2 separate regions of the Homo sapiens genome follow, and region 1 is linked to region 2. The links come from fine-mapping of genetic effects on gene expression. A gene starts in region 2. The other region holds a variant in brackets. All regions are shown on one strand. Distances are between the middles of the regions.

What was found. PIP is the estimated chance that this variant, and not a neighbour inherited with it, causes the effect.
Region 1: its variant is fine-mapped to the expression of C1GALT1 in thyroid (GTEx, PIP 0.91).

What each region holds. Positions count from the first base shown.
Region 1 is chr7:7,252,072-7,257,457 of GRCh38, reverse strand. LINC03016 (long intergenic non-protein coding RNA 3016) reads right to left here and starts at 2,304. Exons shown (of 4, transcript NR_108073.1): 1 at 2,280-2,304. The variant T/G (reference allele first, on the strand shown) is at 2,287.
Region 2 is chr7:7,179,931-7,185,316 of GRCh38, reverse strand. C1GALT1 (core 1 synthase, glycoprotein-N-acetylgalactosamine 3-beta-galactosyltransferase 1) reads right to left here and starts at 2,773. Exons shown (of 4, transcript NM_020156.5): 1 at 2,497-2,773. RefSeq lists silencers at 1,984-2,203, 2,424-3,033.

The sequences.
Region 1 (5,386 bases), 72 kb before region 2:
TGATAACTGAAGGTTTCTAGTGGGGTAGCTGAACTACCTTTGGTGACCTGGAAACAGGTAGCAAAGAGGGCAGAGCAGTAGCCTGGTAAGGGTGGAGAGGATTCCACTGGAGCTTGGCCGCTCTCATAAAGTACTATCTGGACCCTTTCTTTCATTATTCTGGAACGGTCAGGAAAGTCTGGTCTCTACTGTGGGCAACAAAGAGGAAAATAAGTCTTTTCCCCAGGGTCAAACAAGATGACAGAAGTCACCAGCAGAAGATGGTAGTGCCCACTGAAGCAGCAAGTTAACTGGAGTCACTGTCCCTAGGAGGCAGCCCAGGAATGGGCAAGAGGGCAACCCATTTCTGGGTACACATTACACTGTACCCTGGGAACCGCTGAGGATCACGAGGGGCATATTTTAAGGGTGGCTATTTCTGCCAGTAATGCTGGAAAGCATTCATGGCATAATGCCATGATATGTAGCAGAATCCACCACAGTGTCTGTACGAAATGTTTAAGTAGGTAATTCATTCTGTCAGTTATTAAGTGTTATGAATCTGAAATCATTAAAACAATGTACTGCACAAGAAATAGGCAGATAAGCAGACCAGAATACAGTTTATACACAAACCGATAATGAAATATCATGGGGTAATGGTGATTTAAAATAAATGTTGAAAGAAAGGATCGTCAAATAAAGTGTATTACAACAAACGGGTAGCCATTTTCCTACCTCACTCCATATAAGAAAATAAATTCTGGAGGGATCAAAAATATAAACACAAAAAATGAAACTATGAAAGTAAGAGGAAAACATAAGCATATTATAAATAAACCTTGGTGTGAGCAAGACACACAATTCAATAGCCCTAAGAAAAGATTAATTGGTTTGTGTGGGGAAAAAACAAGTACGAAATAATCATAACAGTTCTAATACATATAAATAAACCAATATTCAGAGAGTTTATAAAAATTTTTAAAAACCCTAGTAATTCAATATTAAAAACTGGCGAAGATGAAATGCAAATTACCAATGTATAAAAAAAACTCAAACCTTAAGTACAAATCAACAATTATCAGATATTAATGCAGTGATAAAACTAGTAAGTTCAATAATCAAAAACTTTGGTAAAAGGGGCAGGAAAATATACTCGCAAATGTTGAGTAGTAGTATAAGGTAGTACAGTACAGTTTAAGAAGGCAATTTGGCAGTATCTATGAATATTTAAATGCATACATTCTTTATCTCAGCAATTACTTGCTAGGAACTTATCCTATGGCTGTACCCACACAATCATTTCAAGGATGTTCAGTGCAGCAATAATTATAATAAAAGTATCCAACTCAATTATCAATAGAGGAATGGCTTAAAAATTGTGGCACATCCATACAGAGATCTAGTTAACTATTAAAAAGAATTATCTCTAAGTTATTAAACAGTAAGCAGAAAAGGCAAGGAGCAGAATGATGTGTTTAGTTTGGAAATGAGTACAGTTCTGTTATTTTCTGTTTATGGCTGGACAAAGGGACTGCTGGGTGGGGCTGTAGCAGATTATAGCTTTTCATTTTATATTCATTCTCTTTTACCAAGCACATACATTACCTTTGTATAAAAACTTAAAAATATTTTTAACAGGAAAGACATTATCCTCAAACCATGCAGTAATGCCCAACTTGAATATATTTATTCAAGATCTAAGGAAGGAAATTTCAGGGGTACTGGAGTTATTGAAAAATAAACCTAAAAACATGCCAATGAAAGAAAATGGCTGTGGGTCTCAGAAAAAAATGGTACACTGACTGCACCTGGGAAAAAACTGGAACTCTCGAAGAATTGAAGTTAACTGGGCTTTGGCAAATTTGTGAATATATCGACTCTTTCACATGAAGTTGTACCTGAGCCTTATTCTTTAAATCCAGTTCAAATGCCACAATTTCTTTGAAACTTCTCAGATCCCTAAACACTTAATATACAGTCCTCTTATAGTTCTTTGTAAATACCTCTATCATAGTCCTGAGGAGGCTATTTGTTCACTGGCATGTCAGCCCCCAACCCAAATGTGAGATCCTTCAGGCAAGCCTTAACCACAGGTTTCGCCCTCCTTTCTCTTCTATAGCTGACAAACCATGAGCCTGGTGAAAGTTTGTTGAATGGGTGATTTAATGACTGGAGGAAAAAAAAGAGCTGTTGCTTTTTTTGGATTTTAGGATAGAAAACTTGTAACTTGACATGTAAATTAATTATTAACTAACTCGACACAGTTTTCTCCTTACCAGTGTTAGGCACGACCCTACCTTTGTT[T/G]TGTCATCAGAGATCACTTGTTGCTTCAGTAACCAAGAGCACTGAGCTACACCAAGTGACAGTGCTTTGGAATGTCTAATGGTCACTGTAGAGAAAAGGAACCTGAGCTCTCCTCCCTAATAGCAAATACACACAATCTTCTGCCCACACTTGAGGTTTTGTTCTTTTTCTGGACTGTATTCTCCAACGTAAATGCGAGGTTTTTTGCCTGATGGTGTATGATACGTGGAGTTCAAATCAAGATTTTCTCAAGCAGAAAACCTGTTTAGGAGTCCCTCCATATCTATGAGAAAAGCATTTTGTTTAGAGGTCTCCATAAAAATGAAACAGAAGAAAGTAGGGGGCATATGGAGAACTTTTCTTCATAGTGAAAGGATGCTCACCATTTACTTCCTTTTAATTGATATATAATGTACATATTTATGGGGGAGAGAGTAATATTTTGATACATACAATGTATAGTAATCGTATAGTAACCTTTTTAAACTTTTTTGTTGTGGAGATGGAGTCTTGTTGCCCAGGGTGGACTTGAACTCCTGAGCTTCAGCCTTCTGGGTAGCTAGGACAACAGGCATGCAGCACTACACATGGCTTTGTTATTTAAAAAAAAAAATCCTATTATGTCCCAGGCACAATTGGAAACAAGACAGATTTGATCTCTGATAACAGTGCCTGGCAACTATTAGGATCGTTCCTAGAATCTATTTGCAAATGGTGGGAAAAGGCAGGGACCAAATATGTGAGTTCTATCTAGCAGTACAATGGGTCAAAGAAAAACAGAAAGAATGAATAAGATCTAGTATTTGATAGCACAATAGGGTGACTATAGTCAATAATTTAATTGTGTATTTAAAAATAACTAAAAGAGTATAATTGGATTGTTTGTAACACAAAGGATAAATATTTGAGGGGATGGATACTCCATTTTCTATGATGTGATTATTACTTGTTGCATGGCTGTATCAAAGTGTCTCATGAACCCTATAAATACGTACACCTACTATGTACCCACAAAAAATTTTGTTAAAGTACATAGCTCAGGTTGTTCAGGGAAGATAAGAAATTGCATTTAGTACAAAGACCACTAACCTGGGAGTCAGGAAAATTGAGTTCTGTTGCCACTTCTGGCATTATTTGTGTCATTTTTCTAAACTTTAACATCTCTAGATCTGTTTCTGAATCTTTCAAACGAGGCGTTAGAACATCTTTAAGCTCTAGAAATCAGTAGTCCTATATTTTTATGTGGGAAAGGGCTCAGTGTCTTCTATTTCCATGAATAAGAGAATAAGACTTAAGCCAGAACAGATCTAAGAAAGATATGAAAATAATCTGACACAAGGATTTGAGAATAAATAGTAACTTCCGAGTACTCTTCACCCTTGGAGTAGAAGGAGAGAAGGATGCTAAGACGGGTCCACATGAGGCTGCTGGTCCTTTGTATGGGTCAACTATTTACCACTCTTGAAGATGGATACCTCCTTCATCTACCCTCATTATGAACTAGTTCAGCAGTCTTTATACCCTTGATTGAAGAAAGTAATTTCTTATGGCAAGATAAAAGAATCCAAATCAGCTTTGAGATCTTTCCAGCTCATGTGTGTACCTGCTTACCTCTACTGCTGCTTAAGAATGTCTGTGGACATTCTTCACCACTGGTTGTAAAAACCCTAGGGAGCCAGGGCCAACAGCTTTTTTTTCCCACTTTACTTCTCTAAACTGTGACAGTATAAACATGATTTTTTAAAAGTTCAAAAAGGAAAACAGTGAATTATTGAATTTCTTTCCAATCCTAGTACCCTTCCCCAAAGGTACTGCCAACAGTTTTTGTATATTCATACATTTATAAGTTAAATCATATTTTTCCTTATTTGACATCATATCTATGTTTGGTCTTAATTCTGTCATCTATTGTAAATTCTCCCTTTAGCTCTCTTATATGGCCTGTGTTATCTTTAATTTTGTGTTTTCATTTTAATAGTTATCAGGCTTACAGTTTTGGTGATTACCTTCATAACTATTCAGAATATTACATCCCTATTTCTTGATATATTATCAATTTTACAAAATTTCTATTCTGAAAAGTAAAACCAATTAGGGCATGTATATATTACCTCGTCTTTGATATTCTATTTTCTAACTTGTTAATCATCTTTTCTATATCAAGATTTATAACATTTCAATATGCTTCCATAGCCTTATTTAAATAATTCTATAGCTACATAGTTAAATAATTAACCACCACCAGTCCTGTTCTCAATGTTTGTCCATTTATCTCTTTAGATGGGCTTCATCATCTAGATTTTTCAAGAAGTGTCCACCCTCACTCTTTCAATTTACCCTTCCATTTGAAATCACTTGGCTTCTTCCTCCCCCAAGAATCTGGTAGAGTTTGCTTCACTCTGCTTTAGCACTGAATGTTGCTACAGAGAAGCCTAAGTCCAGTCCGTTCTTCCTCTCTCCATCTCCCCCTCCCAAAGAAATCACTCAATTTTGTTGCTGCTAAGATGACATTCCCCTCTCCCTGCCCCCAGGACAATTTGCAGATTTTGGCCACATCAAGAGCAACTGTATTTTTTTGAAATTATAATGTTAAAATTAGCATTTGTTACACGATCTCACTTTAATAAAACCATTTCTATCTATTTAGCTTCCTATCCAATTTATATTTATGCATTAATTGGAATTACTTTGGGGGGTGGTGGGGTTTGGGGTCCTTTAAAAATTTTCATCTTTGAAATGGTCATCTGCAATGAATGTTTAAGTTTTTTTTAAAATAATGGAGCTTATCACTTTTTCAATGGAAAGATGACTTATCTAGTAAAAGCTGGTAGTAAATACACAAGATACAATGATGCGTACTTTTTTGTACGTTTTGAAGAAAAACTAACACAAAAGAAAAATGTTAAATGTTTAAAAAGAGGAAACAATTTCTCAAACACCTCCTCTTGATTCTGACAACTTGGGTGGGTTAATGGGCTTATGTCATAGAAATGGCATTTTCCCCCCTCCATATCAGGACACTTCATAAACTTTAACAAGAAGAATAAGCCAGAAGTTTTCTTAGCAATATGAATTAAGAGTATAAAAGCCATTGAATGAT
Region 2 (5,386 bases):
ATTATCCAACATCTAGCCGTTTAAATGTGCTTTAATATACAGGTTTCCCATTCCAGAATCTCCCTAATATTGCCTCTCGTTGCCCCCAACACGCCCCTTCAATGTGCAAGGCAGCACATACTACAGGTGCTAGATAATTTATTTAGACTTTCCTTTCAGTTTCCCCCACCTTCTTATGTGCTTCCCTAAATCACAAACACCAGTTTCTTTATATATTTTTTTTCTCCCTCTTCCTATTCTCACATATTACAGATTTTGGCATATATATTCCCCTTGGACATTTGAATTAGCTGCAAAATAATTTAAGTACACATTGGAGTTCCTCTCTAACCAGATTTTAAGATAAAAGGCTAACTTCTCATTTTATGGAACAAGTCTCCTTCCCGCTCCCCACCTTTCTTCTTTTAAAAGAATGACTTAATCCCACTGAATTTGAAGTAAAAAGATTTTTGTCATACCTTTCTTTCAGCCTTGCTATAGTTTGTACATCAGCGTCTTTAATCAAATCTTAAGAAATCTTCTAAAAGAAAAGATGGTTGTATTGGGAAGCTTAAACTTTTAAGCCTATCTGAATTTAATTTCAGCATCAAGCTTTCCATTTTCTACTTAAGGTTTATTTATAGCTGCACTGTCACAAAAATTCCAATCAATGATTTTACCACACAAAGACTCTAAATTACCATGGCTTATAATGTTAAACTGCATAATGCAATTTTAATTTTAGCACAAATCAATACACAAATAGTAGCATGTGCCTAGTGACATACTTTTTCATATTTCTATTAGGTAAACAAGAACTCATTATGTGTACCCTGAAATAAATTTGTGATACAATTTTAAGAATAACTGGATATTGAATTTACTCAACGTAGTCTAGTCTTAAAAAGCATAATTATGAAAAACTTTAAATAGGAAACACAAAATATTTCTAAAATGCTTAATCCTAAGTAGGAAGATACAAAAAAATACACATTCCAGGCAAATTTGAGAGGCATTTAGTAGCTCTCCACTAATACTGAAAAATTATTCTCTTTATGAAGAATTTTAAATGAGTCATACTTTCCTTACTAAGTCATTGTTTCACTTACCATAAGGTGAAGAGTTAACTGTTTGCTAACTTGAAACTTTATATTCACTTAAACTGTACATCTATATATAAAGACTGGTAGAAAGTATAGTGTACTATATACAATATTTAGAACATACAGCATCATGGGCATTAAGCTCAACTGCCATTTACCTAAGAGGGTGAAAAGCTGTCATCTAAATACCTTCTAAAAACTCGGATTCCAACTTCCCAAACTCACACCAGAATGAAGCAACTTGAAATTATGCGCACTTTTTCCTGGCAGAGCTATGTTCTATGCCCAACTTTTAGTAAGTTAACATATTTCTCTCCCTTACACATCGGCCAATTATTCATTGATTCATTATGGTTCTAAATTTATAACTTTTAAATTCATAATGAAATCAATCCATGGTTAGCACAATAGTTTTCTATCTTAAAAAAGCGTTAAAAGGAAATACAGTAGTATGTACAATGGATATAGAGAACTAGGTTAGAAATCTTGAGAATTTTTCCAGGATGTGTGGGTTTTTTGTTGCTGATACTGTTGTTTGCTTTAAATGCGGGGTGGTGGGGGGTGGGGAGACGGTAAGGACCAGGAAAGAATAAATCCACAGCGCTAAATTATGGTCATCTTTTAAGAGTGTACGACTTACCCAAATTCAAAGCAAATGGACAACTTGTCAACACCTACTAATTCCATCACAATTTGTTGGGGAAAAATGGGGTGCAGAAGCAAAAAAAAAAAATTTAATGCCTTTCTTCCTCCTCCATGCCCCGAATGCCCCAACACACACGTATCTGCTTCACTCTGCGGCAGGGAAACTTAAAGAAATAAATCAGCTACAGACAAACCTGATGATCCAAGCTAGACCCAAGCAAGCTCCAGGCACCTCTGGAAGGAGCCCGCTCGCTGGGCGCTCAGGCGGCGCGGCAGCCGAGTGGCTCCCCGGCGAAGGTGCCCAACACCTGGGCGCCCAGTCCGGCGGGACCCACAGGTCTGCGGCGGGGCGGGGAGGGCCCGGGAGGAGGGACTGGGAGGGCCCGGCGGGGCAGGACCGCTAAGTGGTCCGGTCCGGGCGCACTGCGCGCCCCGCCGCGCCGCCAGGCAGCGCGCGAGCAGAAGAGGGGCGCGAGCGGGCACAAGGGAAGGACCCACGACGAAGAGGAGGGTACATGTCCACAAAATTGAGGCCGGGTACGCAGCCGAACGCTGTGGCAGATCGCTAAGGCTCCGGGAGCGGGAAGTCCTCGCGCCTTCCTCAGGAGCCCGGACGACCCCAGCCCGGCTTTGACCCCGAGACACCTGTTCCGCCGCGCCCGGGGTTTGGTTCCATCCTCCACGCTTCCCCACCAACCCGGAGAGGGGGGAGGGCGAGGGGAGACGAGACCTTGGACCCGTAGCCTGAGGGCGCCTCCGCCGGCCATACCTGACATCAGCTGCGGCTCCCTCTCGCCCCTCCTGGGGGGCGGAGAGGGGGACGACTTGGGACTGGTGACCTTTGCTTCTCTGGGCAGCCGCAGAAGTGGCTCGTGGCCGCTAGCCGAGGCCGCCCGCTGCCGCCCAGATTATTCCCCGGCAGCGGCAGCACAGCGGCGGCGGCCAAGGCGGGCCCAGCGCGCGCTCCCGCCCGCTCGCTCCGCCCCTCCCCGCAGCGCGTCCAGGCCGTGGCCCGCCTATGGCGCAGCCGCCACCCGAAGTCTCCTGGCGCTGACGTCTCCGCCGCCGCACCAGCCCCAGGGAAGGGCGGAGCGGGAGGGGCGGTGGGCGGGGATACGGCGACGTGAGGAAGCGGGGATTGGCTGCCGGGTGCACGCTCCGCCCTAATGCGAAGGGGTCTGGGAAGTCGGATCTTGCACGAGCAGTAGATTTTGTTGTATCCCCCTTGCGGCTTGTGTCTGCTACTCTCCGCATTTCTGATCCTGCTGTAAGGTTATGCACTAGCTTCAAGACCTTGAGCGGGACGAAAGCAGGGTAACAATAGGGAGCGAGAAAGGGGATGCTTGAAGGACCTTTGTCTGAGGTACAGGCTCTAACCCTGCAGGACTCTTGTGGCCTGTAGCCTGCTCTTAACCCGTTCATTTGTTTTTCTGTTCTCTCCCCGTGCTCTCTTTACTCAGTATCTCTCTGGGCTTAATAAAAGGAAGTAATAAGATGAAGTATGCATACGGGTGCTGGGTCATCATGTGAGAACCAGGAAGAGCTGAGAACCGAGATAATGATACCAGAAAGCTTTCTATAGGCACATTTCGTCTTTGGTTCTGTCAGCACTTCGGTTCTGTGGGGCAATGGCCGGAAGAGCTTCTTAGGGGCGTAACAAAACCTATCTCCCCTTTCGCTGGGCTCTGAATAAGGAAGTTGTCTTTGGAATAGGGGGAGGAGGCTGCCACCTGTTGAGGCAACCCCACAATAGTCATGAGGTGAGGGTAAGGTTTAGTCTTTACTGGCGTTAACCATTATCTACAAGACCACGTTCCAGAATAGGAAAGCTACCCTGCTTCCTTTAAATGCCCTATCCAAGCGGTTCTTTAGTACTCTACAGCATGGTTGTTAAAGAGTATGGGCTCTGAAATCAGACTGCCCGGGCTGGCATCTTGGTCCCTCCACCTATTGGCAAGTTACTTAGAATGCCTGAGACAAATAATAATATACATTAGTTATTGTTATTTTTCCTTTAATTTGCTTAGGTTCAGCTGTAGTGTAGTTTCTCAGGACATTGCATCAATATATCCAAAAGAATTGTGAAACATAAAGCACATGTAGTGATTCTAATACAGATGTCTCATTTTTCAGATGACAAAACTAAGGCCAGAAAGATAAACTGATAGGTCCATGTTAGAAGAGAAGTGCAGCTATCCTGATGTCCAGGTTATTGCTCTTTCCTTGGCTCATGGGTCCAGACTTCTCTGCCTTACATGATTACGTCCATTCTCTACTCCTCCCCAACTTGTATACAGTTGTTGCTCAGCCTCCTCCCCCTCCACCTTTCCGCAATATCCTTCCACCTTTCCGCAATATCCTTCCACCTTTCCGCAACATCCTTCCACCTTTCCGCAATGTCTTGCCATCCATTGTGAAACATGGAAGGAGAACTCTTTCAGGGGTCAGTGTTCCAAATAGAAACCAAAACTCACAACTCCTTATCTCGTTTTAATTTTATTAAAAGTTATAATTAATAAAGAATAACACTTTTTTCCATTGAGCAAAGATTAGAACCCTTTCCTAAAATAAGGTCAGCCACAGCCTTATCCTGGAAAATTACTTGCTAGAAACAATACTGGACCAAATCAGCCCTGCCCCCACCCTGCCTTTCTTTGAAAATAGCTTTTTTTTTTTTTTGAAGAGATATGGTCTTTCTATGTTGCCCAGGCTGGAATGCAGTGGCTATTCACAGGTGTGATCTTGGCACACAACAGCCTCGAATAACTGGGCTGAAGGCTGAAGCAATCTTCCCGCCTTAGCCTCCCCAGTAGTTGGGATTACAGGCACAGGCTGTGGCACCCAGCTAATAACTATTGTTTTATAAAAACAATACATGCTTATGCAAACAAATTTAAAAAATTTAAACAAAAATGCAAAGAAGTTAAAATCTGTCCAAATACCATAATATAGAGATAACCATTTCTTAAATTTTGTGTTACATTCTTCTAGGCATCTCTCTAAGAATAAAAGCACATATAGACATATAAATACAATATTTCATAAATTGGATCGTATTATCTGCACAGTGAACAACAGTCATGAATAACATCATTTTTAAAAGTTGCATACTGTCTGTTAAATGGATATACCATCATTTATCCAACCAGTATTCTATTGATTGACATTTATGTTTCCAAGTTTTTACTACCATAAAAAAAGTCTCTGATGAACATTCTTATCCATAGGCTTTTGCACAATTGTGCAATTATCTCCTTGAACACATTCCTAGAAGTGACATTAATGTCAGCCAATTCTTCGACATTTTCAATTAGAGAATAAAAATTGTGGTTACTTTGAAAAATATACTTTATATGTGGGACTCAAAACTGACCAGATTCTCCCATTTGAAACATACTTGAAACACACATAAACCTCAGTATTGTTGTTTCTCTTGTGTCTAGTGTTTAATAATGCATGTCAAAACTCGTTGGAGTAGGTCGGTAGACATTACTAGTTGTCTAAACCAAAATCCTTTCTTCTTTACTAGTAGAACTCTGATTTCTTCAGGGTGACAATGTGGCCAGTTAAAAATATTCATGCCCCTAGACTTTCATAAGTCATGGCTGGCCATGTGACCATCAATTAAATAAAAGTGAATTTCTGTAGAGGAGACTCAA